Linked DNA regions of Homo sapiens. The protein of the gene in region 1 interacts with the protein of each later gene in a biochemical or structural test. Each region holds a gene or a part of one and is shown in the gene's direction. Other genes may lie near its edges.

Region 1 (7,863 bases):
CTATTCACAATAGCAAAGATATGGAATCAATCTAAATGCCCTCAATGGTAGACTGGATAAAGAAAATGTGGTACATATAGACTATGGAATACTTTGCAGCCATCATGTCCTTTGCAGGAACGTGGATGGAGCTGGAGGCCATTATCCTTAGCAAACTAACACAGGAACAGCAAATCAAATATCATATTCTCCCACTTATAAATAGAGCTAAGTAGTGAGAACAAATGGACACAAACAGAGAACAACAGATACTGGGGTCCACTTGAGGGTGGAGGGAGGGAAGAGAAAATATAACTATCAGGTACTATGCTTAGTGCTTCGGTGATAATCTGTACACTGAACCCTTGTGACATGAGTTTACCTGTATAACAAATCTGCACATGTACCCCTGAACCTAAAAGATCAAAAAAAGAAAAAAAAAGAAATATGTGTTGGACCACAATTTCAGATATGCAAAGAATAACATATAAATTTATATTTATAAATATAAATCAACCTAGCTTTAATTTTGAGAATTCTGCTCTTCCAGTTTGGTAAAAAACTTAACTTCAGTTATTCTAGGGTTTCCCTCTTCTGTTTCAAGATGGGATAGATTTCAAGAGTTTTATGTATGGCCAAAGCTAAGGCATCTGGGTGTTGAGTCATTCGTCTACCCTGATTCCTCTTCTGGGGTATTCATTCACTCTGTTCACACAGTTTCTACAGTTCTGAACTCCCTCCTACTTCCAGAATTATTTTAAAATATGGGAATGTTTATGAGGGGTCCTTATGGACCTATTTGTTCAGACACATGAGGCAGCCCTGATTCTCTGGAGTATTGCTGCCTCTGCTATGTGCGGTGGTGCTGTGTACAGATAAATATACAAGCATGGCTCCCCAAATATGGGGGCCATAAATTTTCTCTATGCTCCCAGGTCCATGGGACTCTGTGATAGCTTCCCTGGGCTGCTTCTCAAATGCACTCTAGTGCTTCCTTTATTTTCAGTGCGCTTGGCATGACCTTTTGAAAGGGATTCATGTTTTACCCTAGTCAGGAAGCATTTATGACTTTTTTCCCTCAACCTTTCCTTTCCAATATCTTTTTGAAAATATGAAGAACAGAAAAAAATGGGATAAATGAACACAGTTTAATATTTCATAAGCCCATTCTGCCAATAGGAATTAAGTTTTGACCAGAACAGAGGCAGAGTAAAATTCTGATCATGTCACTCTTCTGCTTACCATATTATAATGGCTTCCTATTGCTCCTGGAATACAGATCATATGCCTTAATAAAACACATGGAGATCCTGCCTGCCTCTCCAACCTCTTCATGCACCACAGTCCCTTCTCATTCTCTCTACTGGGACCAAACCTGTGTTTCACTGTGAAAAGGACAGGTTTTTTTATTATTATTATTTTTTTATTTTTTATTTTTGTATAGTACCTCTTCACCTGGTTAACTCCCATTCATGCTGTAAAGTTGCAGCTTTAGTGGAATTCTTGCAGGGAAAGCTTACATATTGCCACTTATTATAGATACTCATGGCACTATGTATCTTTTCTTTGTAGCACTTGTCCATGATGGTTACCTTCTCTCATAAGAAGAGAAATGCAAAGGATAACTACAATTTAATGGCATTTTCACTTGTCAGACTAATAAAACTCCAAATGTTTTCACAATAAATTTTTTGAAATAAATGAGTACTCTTACCTACTGCTGGTGGGATTATAAAACTAGCACAACCTCTGTGGAGGATAAGTTGGCAATATCTTTTTTTTAATACCTTTTGTCCCAGGCAGTCTACTTCTGGAAATTGATCCTATAGATTTATTTTCGTAGTATAAAATGACATATTTTGTCTTTATTCATTACAGCATTTCTTTGGTAATAGAAAAGTACTGAAGAAAATTAAATGTTCCTCAATAGGAGGCTGCTCAAATACACTGTGATATACCCATTCGGTGGAATACCCTGTAGCTATAACAAAAACAAAAATGTGAGAAGCTTCCTAAATAATGAGATAGGAAGATTTTTCTGTTAAAAAAAAATACAAAAAAATGCATATGACGTGCTACCTTTTGTATAAAAAGGGTAAAAGTAAAAAATAATATGTATGTGTATATACATATACACACAAACATATGTATCCAGTTTGCCTGTACAAGCATAGCGAAACTCTGAAAAGATACACAAGAAACTAATAAAAAGAATTATCTATGTTTTGGGGAAGAATGAAAACTGACAGGATATGGAACAGAATAAGATGTAAGAATGAAAAGTAATGAAAATATTTAATTATGTTCCCTTCTACTGATTATATTATACATGATTATGAACGAGGCAAAGTTTTGTTTTTCTTTTTCAGATGGAGTCTCGCTTTGTCACCTAGGCTGGAGTGCAGTTGTGCGATCTCTGCTCACTGCAAGCTCTGCTTCCCAGGTTCACACCATTTTCCTGCCTCAGCCTCCCGAGTAGCTGGGACTACAGGCGCCCGCTACCATGCCCGGCTAATTTTTTTGTATTTTTAGTAGAGACGGGGTTTCACTGTGTTAGCCAGGATGGTCTCGATCTCCTGACTTTGTGATCCATCCGCCTCGGCCTCCCAAAGTGCTGGGATTACAGGCGTGAGCCACCATGCTGGGCCAGTTAATTCTTTGAAGCCAGCAATGGTGTGTTAAAAAAGAAAATTCAATCTACAAATAACAAAAAAAAGACAATAGTTCAAAGTATTCCTGTGCTTAATCTATCACTATAGGTCTATTAAAACAAGAGCAACAAACGGTTGCCAATGTATAACTTAAAACATCCAGAGGGTTACCCCATCTACAGTTGCCTAAAGTTATTCTTAGTTCCTGGAGAATTCATTTAGAAGCATAAGCATAATAAGGGCACAGTGAAATCTAAGTTTGGTTCTCCATTATAGCTGTGGTCCTAATGAATTGTGGGCCCATCCTGAATTAATAATTCTCCAATAAAAATGATAATCAAAGAATTTAAACCATTGATACAGTTCCCTTGTTGATATTAATCTGTTCATTAATATTACTTGGATCATATTTCCAAATTACAGAGTGTAATAGCATCTAATGCACTTTCATAGATCACAATTTTATTCTTTTGTTTCCCATTTTACAGTTAATCCTATGTAGCAGATATTAAGGAGGCACTAAGCACTCTTTGCTAACAAACTATCCATTTCTTTCATTTAAGTATTTAGCACTTAGTTAGCAAATGTGGACTTCTCACTTACTGATTTCTTGGTTTAAAAACTGTAGGTTCAGTATGGAACAAATGGATTTAGTAGCTCTTGAATATCTTTACACTGTAAACTTACTATTGATAACTTTTATTTCTTTAGAAGCAATATCTAAGTCCTAGGAATTCTGAGCCTGCTCATTATTGTTACCTCCCAAACTAGCGGAGTGTGATTCAGAACACAATAACATTATATTTTCTTTCCTCCTTCTCTTCCTCCTTTTAGAGAATACATGATAGGATGTTTTCAGCTTTCTAGCTTTCAACAGATGCAATGATCAAAGAGTCTGTCCCCCTCTGCTTTAATAAATGTGGAACATTCAACATTTGGCATATGAAGAGTAACTGGGTACATCTGAACTATTCTGTGCTCTTCATTCTGTTCCCTAAAGGGACAGATACAAAGAGAAATCACATAAACTATAATCCAGTTGAGTAGATTTAATTTCCTTTTCCTATTTGGTCTACATGCACCACCTGGTGGTAAAGTAGTGCATTTCACATAGAGAGAGAGAGAGAGAGAGAGAGAGTGTGTGTGTGTGTGTGTGCGCGCGCGCGCGCGTGCACGCGTGTGTGTTTTGAGGAGTATATAACATGAAAAAGATAATTTTAATATACTTTCTTAATACTGATTTAGATAGACAACACAATTATTCTACACCAAGAATCTAATACAACACTTGAGCACTACTTCATGTATAACAGAACAGGAAGTAAAGGAGAGAACTCATGCTGGAAAGTAAAATAGCTTTCACTTATTTACCTTAGCAATACATATTATAATTCCATCTCTAAATTAACATTTATTGTTCCAATATTCTTATTGAGGCAAAAATCAAACACTGATAATCAATGTGAAACCATTTCCTCCTTTTTAAAGAATAACAGCTTTTAAAAGTAGGTGCCCTGTTCCTTATATTAGTAGTGAGTATAAGTCACAGATCACAGAATTGTAAAGCACCATAGAGGCATTAGACCAATACACCAATTTTACAAATGTAGCAGCTGAGACTCTGGAACAGCAGGTAACTTGCCCGAAGTCATACTGGTCATTAGTGGTCCAACACAAATAAGAATCTAGATCTTCTCACTTTCAGCCTAGGAATATAATACATAAAAATTGTACTTATATTCATATTCAATGAATTGTCTCTGTATGATGTGATAATATTCAACTTATCTACACAGTGCTTTAAGGCACTCATATGTTAGTTAACACATACCAGTTTTGTTCTAACATTCTGAGCACAAAGAAGTAATTGAAGAAATGCATGTATCATAAAGCTATGGAAAAGATTTTCTAAGTATTAAAAAACCCTATATATATGTTCAAATGAATAATTTTCCAAGTATAATACAACTGCTATATTGCAAAGAAGGTTTAAAAAATTCCCTTTCCCCTTCTAACTGCTTCAGAACCAGAGATCTGTTTCTACAAAGTAGGTACCCACTTGTAGATTTAAGCATAAAACATGTTCATAGCTCCCTCTCATGACCATTGAATACTATACAAGCCTCCTTTTATTCTCGCTGTTGTATTCAACTAACAGCTCACTGGCTAAGTTTTAATTGCTTCCAATGAGGTCAGCAAAGGTATTTATCGAAAAGCCCTGAATAAAAGGCTCACACACACACACAAGCACACACGCGCTCACACACAGAGAGAAAATCCTTCTGCCTGTTGATTTATGGAAACAATTATGATTCTGCTGGAGAACTTTTCAGCTGAGAAATAGTTTGTAGCTACAGTAGAAAGGCTCAAGTTGCACCAGGCAGACAACAGACATGGAATTCTTATATATCCAGCTGTTAGCAACAAAACAAGTAAGTTACTGTTATTTGTCTTTTAAAACAATGCTGAATGTTTTCTAAAAGTTTATCTCTTTTTCTGATTTTAGTACTGAGCAGGAAAGTAAAGTTACAAGATTTTTGAGCCATGTAACTATAGTAATTATGCTGTAGAACATAAAGATAAGGTTGAAGTTCTCCAGAGCAATCCTGACATTTAACTTAAAAAACCTGGGCAGTTCAGGAGAAAATAATTGATTAACCACAAATGTAAAAGCATATAATAAAGAAGTCTAGGGAGAAAGCAGTTACACTTTGTTAGCAGTAATTGTAAAAACTTAATTTAAATCAATAGTTCTGAGTGCAGTATGGTTCTCACAAAATAGCAATTGGAATGAATGGTACAGTCATATTCTGTTTTGTCTCTACTCATGCATAAATTTTATAAATCTACACATAAAGTGGTAAAGATTTTGACATCCTCTGTGAAGGCTGTTTTAAATGTATCTTCAAAGAATAACCTATACTGTATTCTAATGCTACTACTTACCCACTAAAATTTACACATACAATTTTTTATCTTCCTCTCTCCTCCCCTCCCTATTCTTAATCTCTCATTGCAAACAGAAGTCAAATAGCAAACAGCGTCACAGCAACTGAACTTACTACGAACTGTTTTTATGAGGATTTATCAACAGAGTTATTTAAGGAGGAATCCTGTGTTGTTATCAGGAACTAAAAGGATAAGGCTAACAATTTGGAAAGAGCAACTACTCTTTCTTAAATCAATCTACAATTCACAGATAGGAAGAGGTCAATGACCTAGGAGTAACAATCAACTCAAGATTCATTTTCATTATGTTATTCATGAACACCCGGAGCACTACACTATAATGCACAAATGGATACTGACATGGATCCTGCCAACTTTGCTCTACAGATCATGCTTTCACATTATCTGTCTAGTGGGTACTATATCTTTAGCTTGCAATGACATGACTCCAGAGCAAATGGCTACAAATGTGAACTGTTCCAGCCCTGAGCGACACACAAGAAGTTATGATTACATGGAAGGAGGGGATATAAGAGTGAGAAGACTCTTCTGTCGAACACAGTGGTACCTGAGGATCGATAAAAGAGGCAAAGTAAAAGGGACCCAAGAGATGAAGAATAATTACAGTAAGTAATTTTAAGTACTGCTCATGAACCTTAGCAATCTGTTAATGGATCAATTTTCAGGTGATATGTTTTCTCATCTTCCTTTTGCTTCTTGGAAAAAAAATTAAATAAAATGTCACCTAATTTCTCTAAATTGAACTATGTTGAACTATGCCCCTAAAAATATCTCTTTTAACAGGGCAAATCTACTTACATTATAGTTGGACCTGATAATCCAAGCCAATTTGAAAATATATACTCCTTGTCCTGAAAATGCTCATAAGTTAAGCAAAATGTAAATAATATTATTCACACCAAAATGTGACTTAATATTGTCTAAGCAAAACTCATTAAGATATCTAATTTAGAACTTCATAAATTATCACTAAAAGCTATTTATCACTAGTTTAAAGAGTAGGGAAATTATTTTTATTAATTTGATTTTCTTTGAAATAATATTTTCATGATGTAAATTAAAATACTTAATCTGTGCTAAGATATGCATTCCTTTGCAATTGTGTATAATGATAAAATAGAAGGGAATCTGTGGTATCCTTATTCATTTGAGTCATAATGAGCTTGTATTAAGTTGATGACTTATCAACTTAGGCAGAAAAACAGATCTCTCCTAACGTTTTCCTTAACTAAATCTTTTATGTCATAAAAGTTCTGTGCTATCTTAAGAAAAATGTAAAGGTGAGGGGAAAAAAGTGGGCTGGAAGAGATGGTAATTCCATGTTTTTCAATTTAAAGCCTTACATTTTTCCCAAGAATCAGTTATTCTTCTTATGTTAAAATATCAGGGTTGTGTTTTGCATTTAATGGTTATGATGAATAACCAACTTCAATAGTATTAAATGTAATGGAATAAGATACACACCTCAACATGTACATTAAGGATTTAAAATACTTAGTAAAAATAAATTTTGTTTACATTACTAGCACTCAGAAAACATTGTTATTAATATATAATTTCATATTAATTGTTTTAAAGTCATTTGAAAAAGAATGCATGGGGAGACTGGTGTAAACATGTGCAAATCACAGTGCCAGGCTTGCAGCAATTACTCAAACTTTTGTTGCCTGTTTACTGAATGACTTTTAGGGTTCTGAACTAATCAACCAATCAATGGGAATTTCAGAGAATTATGTTTCCAATATGAAAATGAGAAGACCTTCTTTTTAACCATAATTGATATAGAATGTTAAGGCCATTTTAATGACTGGACAGTTATGGTTTTATTATTATTATTTATTATTATTACTGAGATTAATAAAGGTATCATGTTAGTTCTAGAAGATCATTCTTATTATACTAAAGTTTATCTAAGGAAATGACTATTTGGAGAAAATTTTTTTGATATCTACTTCTATATAAGCAACAGAATTTGGCTTATAATTAATTTATTTAAAAGTTGCTCAGATTTATCATGGATAATATCATGGATATAATAACAATATTATATATTATCATGGATAATATATATCAATAATAATATCATGGATAATAAAACCTGGTGGAGACGACAGAGCCTAGGTAAAAATTATGACACATGGGGCAACTCCCTGTCTACGAATGATCTGGGGACAATTTCTTTGTTTTTCTGACCCTCAATTTTTCATCTATAAAATGTGGGATAGGTACAGATGATTTCCATGATACTTTCCAGTTCTTATAG
Region 2 (7,000 bases), on another chromosome or scaffold:
GGAGGCATGGGAGGATAAATGCAGGGATCAGGGCAAGTCCCCTCTTCCTGTGCATTTCGTCTCTGTGTCACTTGAGGCCAATCCCTAGCCCTCTCTGAGCCATGGGCTCCTCATCTGGAATACAGAAGGCTGTAGGGCATTCCCCATCTGCTCAGGGCCCTGTTTGTGGTGGAGAGGGCAGGGAGCCCCGTGTGCCCCCATGTGCCCAACCCTGCCTGGCATCCTCCCCAGGGCTGGCCGTTCTGCGGAGCGCCGAGCCGCTGGCCCTGGGCCGCTGGCACCGTGTGTCTGCAGAGCGTCTCAACAAGGACGGCAGCCTGCGGGTGAATGGTGGACGCCCTGTGCTGCGCTCCTCGCCCGGCAAGAGCCAGGGCCTCAACCTGCACACCCTGCTCTACCTGGGGGGTGTGGAGCCTTCCGTGCCACTGTCCCCGGCCACCAACATGAGCGCTCACTTCCGCGGCTGTGTGGGCGAGGTAAGAGCAGCCTCCTCGGGACAAGCGGGAGGGGAGGGGTGCCAAGCCTTGTGTCCCCCTCGGCTCTCCAAGCACCTTGGCATTGGGCCCCTCCACCTGCAGCCACCCACGGGCCCTGGGCCAGGACACTGTACCTCTGAGCCTCAGTTTCCTCCTCTGTAAAATGGGCATGATCACACCTACTTTGAAAGGTTGGGCAGAGGATTGTCTGCACTGACGGATGAATGTTTCTAGCACACAGTAGGCACTCAACTCCTGCGCCTCCCTCCCCACACCGAGAATCCATGCTACCACTCAGGGCCCAATGTGGGCTCCCAGCTCCCCTCTGCTGCATTCTTCTCCCTGCTGGTACACCTGGGTCTCTGCCTCCCAGGCCCCTTTAGTCCCTCGGTGTCCCTGTCCCCACAGGTGTCAGTGAATGGCAAACGGCTGGACCTCACCTACAGTTTCCTAGGCAGCCAGGGCATCGGGCAATGCTATGATAGCTCCCCATGTGAGCGCCAGCCTTGCCAACATGGTGCCACGTGCATGCCCGCTGGCGAGTATGAGTTCCAGTGCCTGTGTCGAGATGGATTCAAAGGTGGGAAAGCCTGCCCAGGGCACCGGAGGGGAGGGGCACAGGTGGTCAGCGACACCTCCAGCCCATGCCCACCCACCCACTCGCCTCTGCCCTGGCCCACAGGAGACCTGTGTGAGCACGAGGAGAACCCCTGCCAGCTCCGTGAACCCTGTCTGCATGGGGGCACCTGCCAGGGCACCCGCTGCCTCTGCCTCCCTGGCTTCTCTGGCCCACGCTGCCAACAAGGTACCCAGGCCTGGCTTCTCTCCACTTCATCTCTGTCTTGGGGCCCCGGAGCTCGACATAGTACCCACGGGTGTCTATGCCCACCAACTGGACCCTGCCCTTCTCCATAGGCTCTGGACATGGCATAGCAGAGTCCGACTGGCATCTTGAAGGCAGCGGGGGCAATGGTGAGTACTTGCCATGGCCTCCTCCCCAGCTTCAGCTCAGCTCACTCTTCCAGTTACCCCACACCCTCAATTCTGGCCTGCAAGCAAAACAGCTTTATATGAGGAGCTTGCTGGGCAGAGAGACAGAATGAAGACCACAGCCATGTGGAGCTAGGGCCTGCCCCACACTTACTGGCTGGGTGACCTTGGGCAGGCCTTTGAAACCACTCTGACCTCAGTTTCCTCCTCTGTATTCATGTATTCAGTCAACAAACTATTGTTGCCCATCCTTGCCCTGAGAGCAGTAAATATAAGATGCATAAAGCAAGACCCTCATTCCCAAGAATTCCACCGTCTACTGAAAAGCTAAGGAAACAGTGAAGAGTGAATGCTGATTGAATGTTTACGGACACTGTGCTAACCCCTTTACAGACACATCTCTTCTTATGTATCACTAATATAATAGGCGAGGCAGTGGTATAGTGGGTAAGAGTATAGACTTGGAGCCAGCCTGCTTGGGTTCAAATCCTAGCTCTCCCACTTACTAGCTGTGGAACTTTGGGTGAGTCGCTTAACCTCTCTGTGCCTCATATAAAATGGAGATGAGTAACATCTTTCCCTAAAGATTTGGATAAAATTTTATGTGAGAGTAAAATTACTTAGTGCATTTTTTTTTAAGGTGGAGTCTTGCTCTTTCACCCAGGCTGGAGTGCAGTGGCACAATCTCGGCTCACTGCAACCCCCGCCTCCCAGACTCAAGCGATTCTGCTGCCTCAGCTTCCTGAGTAGCTGGGATTACAGGTGCCTGCCACCACACCCCGCTAATTTTTGTATTTTTTGTAGGGATGGGGTTTCACCATGTTGGCCAGGCCTGTCTCTAACTCCTGACCTCAGGTGATCCGCCCCCCTTGGCTTCCTAAAGTGCTGGATTACAGGCGTAAGCCACCGTCCTAAAGTGCTGGATTACAGGCATAAGCCACCGCGCCCGGCCACTTAGTGCATTTTAAATGCCTAGAACAATGTGTGGTACAGAGTCAGTACAGAATGTTAGCTGTTGTTAATATTATGTTCAGCTGGCCGGGCACACTGGCTCACGCCTGTAATCCCAGCACTTTAGGAAGCTGAAGCGGGCAGATCACCTGAGGTTGGGAATTTGAGACCAGCCTGACCAACATGGAGAAACCCCATCTCTACTAAAAATACAAAATTAGCTGGGCGTGGTGGCACATGCCTATAATCCCAGCTACTCCGGAGGCTGAGGCAGGAGAATCGCTTGAACCTGGGAGGTGGAGGTTGCCATGAGCCAAGATTGCATGCACCATTGCACTCCAGCCTGGGCAACAAGAGCGAAACTCCCTCTCAAAAAAAAATACTATATTCAGCTGGGTATGGTGACTCACGCCTATAATCCCAGCACTTTGGGAGGCTGTGGCGGGCAGATTGCTTGAGCCCAGGAGTTCCAGACCAGCCTGGGCAACAAGGCGAAATCCTGTCTCTACAAAAAAATACAAAAAGTAGCTGGGCATGGTGGTGCTCATCTATGGTCCCAGCTACTCAGGAGACAGGCAGGAGGATTGCTTGAGCCCAGGAGTTCAAGATCAACCTGGGCAACACAGGGAGACCTCATCTCTACAAGAAATTTAAGAATTAGCTGGGTGTGGTGGCACATGGCTATGGTCCCAGCTGAGGCAGAAGGATCACTTGAGCCCAGGAGGTCGAGGCTGTAGTGAGCTACAATTGTGTCACTGCACTCTAGCCTGGGCAACAGACTGAGACCCTGTCTCAAAAAAATAAAAAATAAGGCTGGGTGCGGTGGCTCACACCTGTCATCCCAGCACTTTGGGAGGACAAGGTGGGTGGATCACCTGAGATCAGTTCGAGACCAGCCTGGCCAACATGGCGAAACCCCATCTCTACTAAAAATACAAAAATTAGCCAGGTGTGGTGGTGCACACCTGTAGTCCCAGCTACTCGGGAGGCCAAGGCAGGAGAATTGCTTGAACCTGGGAGGTGGGGGTTGTAGTGAACCAAGATTGTGCCACTGCACTCCAGCCTGGGCCACGGAGCGAGACTCCATCTCAAAAATAAATAAATAAAATAAAAATTATCTATATATAATATTCATTCATAGGGTTGTTGTAAGGATTGAGTTAAATGCAGTGGTGTCTGTAGCTGGATGGGACGCTCCCCGCACAGCCACATCATAGGTGTTAGGTAAATGTCAGCCGTTCTCCTCATCATTTGGTGGAGGGTAGCAGAGGGTCCCCTACTCTTGTCCCCTGCCAGAGCTACTGTGGCCAGTGCCGGCCTGTGGGATGGGTCATGAGCAGATAGGGCTGGGGGGGTGTGGAGCCACACACAGTATGGACATCCTGGGCCAGTCACTCGCCCAAGCCTGCCTGCTCTTCTGTAAGATGGAGAGAACACCAAGGCTCTGAACCATTTATTGCCACAGTCCAAGGTGACCAACGGTCCCAGTAGCTCCGGACTGAGGGGTTTCTTGGGATGTGGGACTTTCAGGGCTAAAGCCAGACAGAATTTGGCAAGTAGAATGGCGGGTCACCCGACACGGATCCTGTTGACTACACAAAATAAAATAAAATAAAATACATTGATTTAAGGAAAGCAATTATGCTGAAGTAAAGTAATCAAAACATGTTTTAAGTTTCCTGACTTGCTATATATGTGCTTCTTTATTAACACATCAAATAACAAGATCTGGTGATCTCAGTAGCTACCACAATTTCAAAGCAGCAATATGTGTAAATGATATTTTGAAATATTTGCAGCTACTGTCATGTGATAAGCAAATACTAGTAACAAAGTTGCAGGTCCTACCACTGCTACTTTGGTTTCTTGCCTACATCTCATTGAAAGAACTGCTCAATTTCAGTGAGAAGTGAGTGAAATTGAGGTGTAATGCTTTCCCATCCAAGGTCATAGGCTCCCTGAATTCTGTTGGCAGCCCCCGTGGGTCCCCAGGGACTGCAGGCTCGGAGCCCCCTAGTCCTGCATGTTGGCGTGGAGGTGGGGGTCAGGGGAACTGACGGGGGATTTTGATGCCTGATGCAGCAGGTATGGCACCACCCTCCTCTCTCCCACAGATGCCCCTGGGCAGTACGGAGCCTATTTCCACGATGATGGCTTCCTCGCCTTCCCTGGCCATGTCTTCTCCAGGAGGTGAGACTGGCATTGGAAGGGCCCATGGGCCTAATGGGGAGGATGGGAATCTGGGACTTCTGTCCCCTCACCCGCTCTTCCTCCGCAGCCTGCCCGAGGTGCCCGAGACCATCGAGCTGGAGGTTCGGACCAGCACAGCCAGTGGCCTCCTGCTCTGGCAGGGTGTGGTGAGTGTGGGTATCCGGCTGGGCTCTTGGGGCTCCTGGGGCAGGAAGCTGGCTTCCTGGTGGCCGGAGTGGTGGGGGGAGGGGAAAGCAGAGCCCCCTGGCCTCGGCAGCCTCTGCTCTCCAGGCTGGGGACCCCAGAGACCCTGTGCTTCCCTGGCAGGAGGTGGGAGAGGCCGGCCAAGGCAAGGACTTCATCAGCCTCGGGCTTCAAGACGGGCACCTTGTCTTCAGGTAGGTCCTGGCACCTGGCCCTTCCTCTCCCTTCCCTGGTCCCAGCACCCCACCCCCCGGTCCTGCCCCAGCTCATACTTCTTGGGCCTGGATGACTGCAGGTACCAGCTGGGTAGTGGGGAGGCCCGCCTGGTCTCTGAGGACCCCATCAATGACGGCGAGTGGCACCGGGTGACAGCACTGCGGTAAGGGACCCTGCCGGGCACTCGGGATGGGGCCCAGCGTTCTGGAGTGGGGCAGGACGCCCCCTACCATGGGCAGAGAGGCAGGTATTGAGCTCTGTGGAGACAGAACTTGAAGCCAGGGGAGGGGAGAACCCACCAGCCAGGGCTCGGGCTTCCATCTCGGACTGAACTCCGCTGGGGGCAGGCGAGTGCCCCAGGAGTGGGAGGAAACCTGGGTGCAGAAATGAGGAAGCTGTGTTTGTGGGGCCCGATCTCTCGTTCAGCGGGGGAAAGAAAGAGCTTGGGAAACAGGGACAGACTTCTGAGTCTGGAGTCTCGATATCAGAGGGAGGGGACTCTGTCGTGGGGCCGGGGAGGACCAGGAAGTTTGTGGAAAGGGGCCTGACCCAGTTCCACTGCAGGGAGGGCCGCAGAGGTTCCATCCAAGTCGACGGTGAGGAGCTGGTCAGCGGCCGGTCCCCAGGTCCCAACGTGGCAGTCAACGCCAAGGGCAGCGTCTACATCGGTAAGTCTGGGGCTCCTTCTCAGGGCAGGGGCAGGAACGGCACTCCCTTAGGGCTAGAGCTCGCCCAGCCTTCCTCGCCTCCTGGGCTGCTGGAGCCCACAGGCCCTGTCCTCTCACCTCCCGGCAGGCGGAGCCCCTGACGTGGCCACGCTGACCGGGGGCAGATTCTCCTCAGGCATCACAGGCTGTGTCAAGAACCTGGTGCTGCACTCGGCCCGACCCGGCGCCCCGCCCCCACAGCCCCTGGACCTGCAGCACCGCGCCCAGGCCGGGGCCAACACACGCCCCTGCCCCTCGTAGGCACCTGCCTGCCCCACACGGACTCCCGGGCCACGCCCCAGCCCGACAATGTCGAGTATATTATTATTAATATTATTATGAATTTTTGTAAGAAACCGAGGCGATGCCACGCTTTGCTGCTACCGCCCTGGGCTGGACTGGAGGTGGGCATGCCACCCTCACACACACAGCTGGGCAAAGCCACAAGGCTGGCCAGCAAGGCAGGTTGGATGGGAGTGGGCACCTCAGAAAGTCACCAGGACTTGGGGTCAGGAACAGTGGCTGGGTGGGCCCAGAACTGCCCCCACTGTCCCCCTACCCACCGATGGAGCCCCCAGATAGAGCTGGGTGGCCTGTTTCTGCAGCCCTTGGGCAGTTCTCACTCCTAGGAGAGCCAACCTCGGCTTGTGGGCTGGTGCCCCACAGCTACCTGAGACGGGCATCGCAGGAGTCTCTGCCACCCACTCAGGATTGGGAATTGTCTTTAGTGCCGGCTGTGGAGCAAAAGGCAGCTCACCCCTGGGCAGGCGGTCCCCATCCCCACCAGCTCGTTTTTCAGCACCCCCACCCACCTCCACCCAGCCCCTGGCACCTCCTCTGGCAGACTCCCCCTCCTACCACGTCCTCCTGGCCTGCATTCCCACCCCCTCCTGCCAGCACACAGCCTGGGGTCCCTCCCTCAGGGGCTGTAAGGGAAGGCCCACCCCAACTCTTACCAGGAGCTGCTACAGGCAGAGCCCAGCACTGATAGGGCCCCGCCCACCGGGCCCCGCCCACCCCAGGCCACATCCCCACCCATCTGGAAGTGAAGGCCCAGGGACTCCTCCAACAGACAACGGACGGACGGATGCCGCTGGTGCTCAGGAAGAGCTAGTGCCTTAGGTGGGGGAAGGCAGGACTCACGACTGAGAGAGAGAGGAGGGGGATATGACCACCCTGCCCCATCTGCAGGAGCCTGAAGATCCAGCTCAAGTGCCATCCTGCCAGTGGCCCCCAGACTGTGGGGTTGGGACGCCTGGCCTCTGT

Evidence for each region. The genes of interacting proteins can lie anywhere in the genome.
Region 2: the proteins of FGF7 (region 1) and HSPG2 form a complex in vitro, tested with the Homo sapiens proteins (one study listed by BioGRID).

What each region holds. Positions count from the first base shown.
Region 1 is NC_000015.10:49,418,379-49,426,241, forward strand, and holds the start of FGF7 (fibroblast growth factor 7 precursor), read left to right. Parts: upstream 1-4,863; 5' UTR 4,864-5,062; intron 5,063-5,653; 5' UTR 5,654-5,919; coding exon 5,920-6,205; intron 6,206-7,863. UniProt on the Homo sapiens protein: Plays an important role in the regulation of embryonic development, cell proliferation and cell differentiation. Required for normal branching morphogenesis. Growth factor active on keratinocytes.
Region 2 is NC_000001.11:21,822,311-21,829,310, reverse strand, and holds part of HSPG2 (basement membrane-specific heparan sulfate proteoglycan core protein isoform b precursor), read left to right. Parts: intron 1-231; coding exon 232-476; intron 477-884; coding exon 885-1,056; intron 1,057-1,158; coding exon 1,159-1,281; intron 1,282-1,391; coding exon 1,392-1,448; intron 1,449-4,085; exon of another isoform or gene 4,086-4,531; coding exon 4,532-4,607; exon of another isoform or gene 4,608-4,695; coding exon 4,696-4,774; exon of another isoform or gene 4,775-4,934; coding exon 4,935-5,005; exon of another isoform or gene 5,006-5,106; coding exon 5,107-5,190; exon of another isoform or gene 5,191-5,591; coding exon 5,592-5,695; exon of another isoform or gene 5,696-5,822; coding exon 5,823-5,995; 3' UTR 5,996-7,000. UniProt on the Homo sapiens protein: Integral component of basement membranes. Component of the glomerular basement membrane (GBM), responsible for the fixed negative electrostatic membrane charge, and which provides a barrier which is both size- and charge-selective.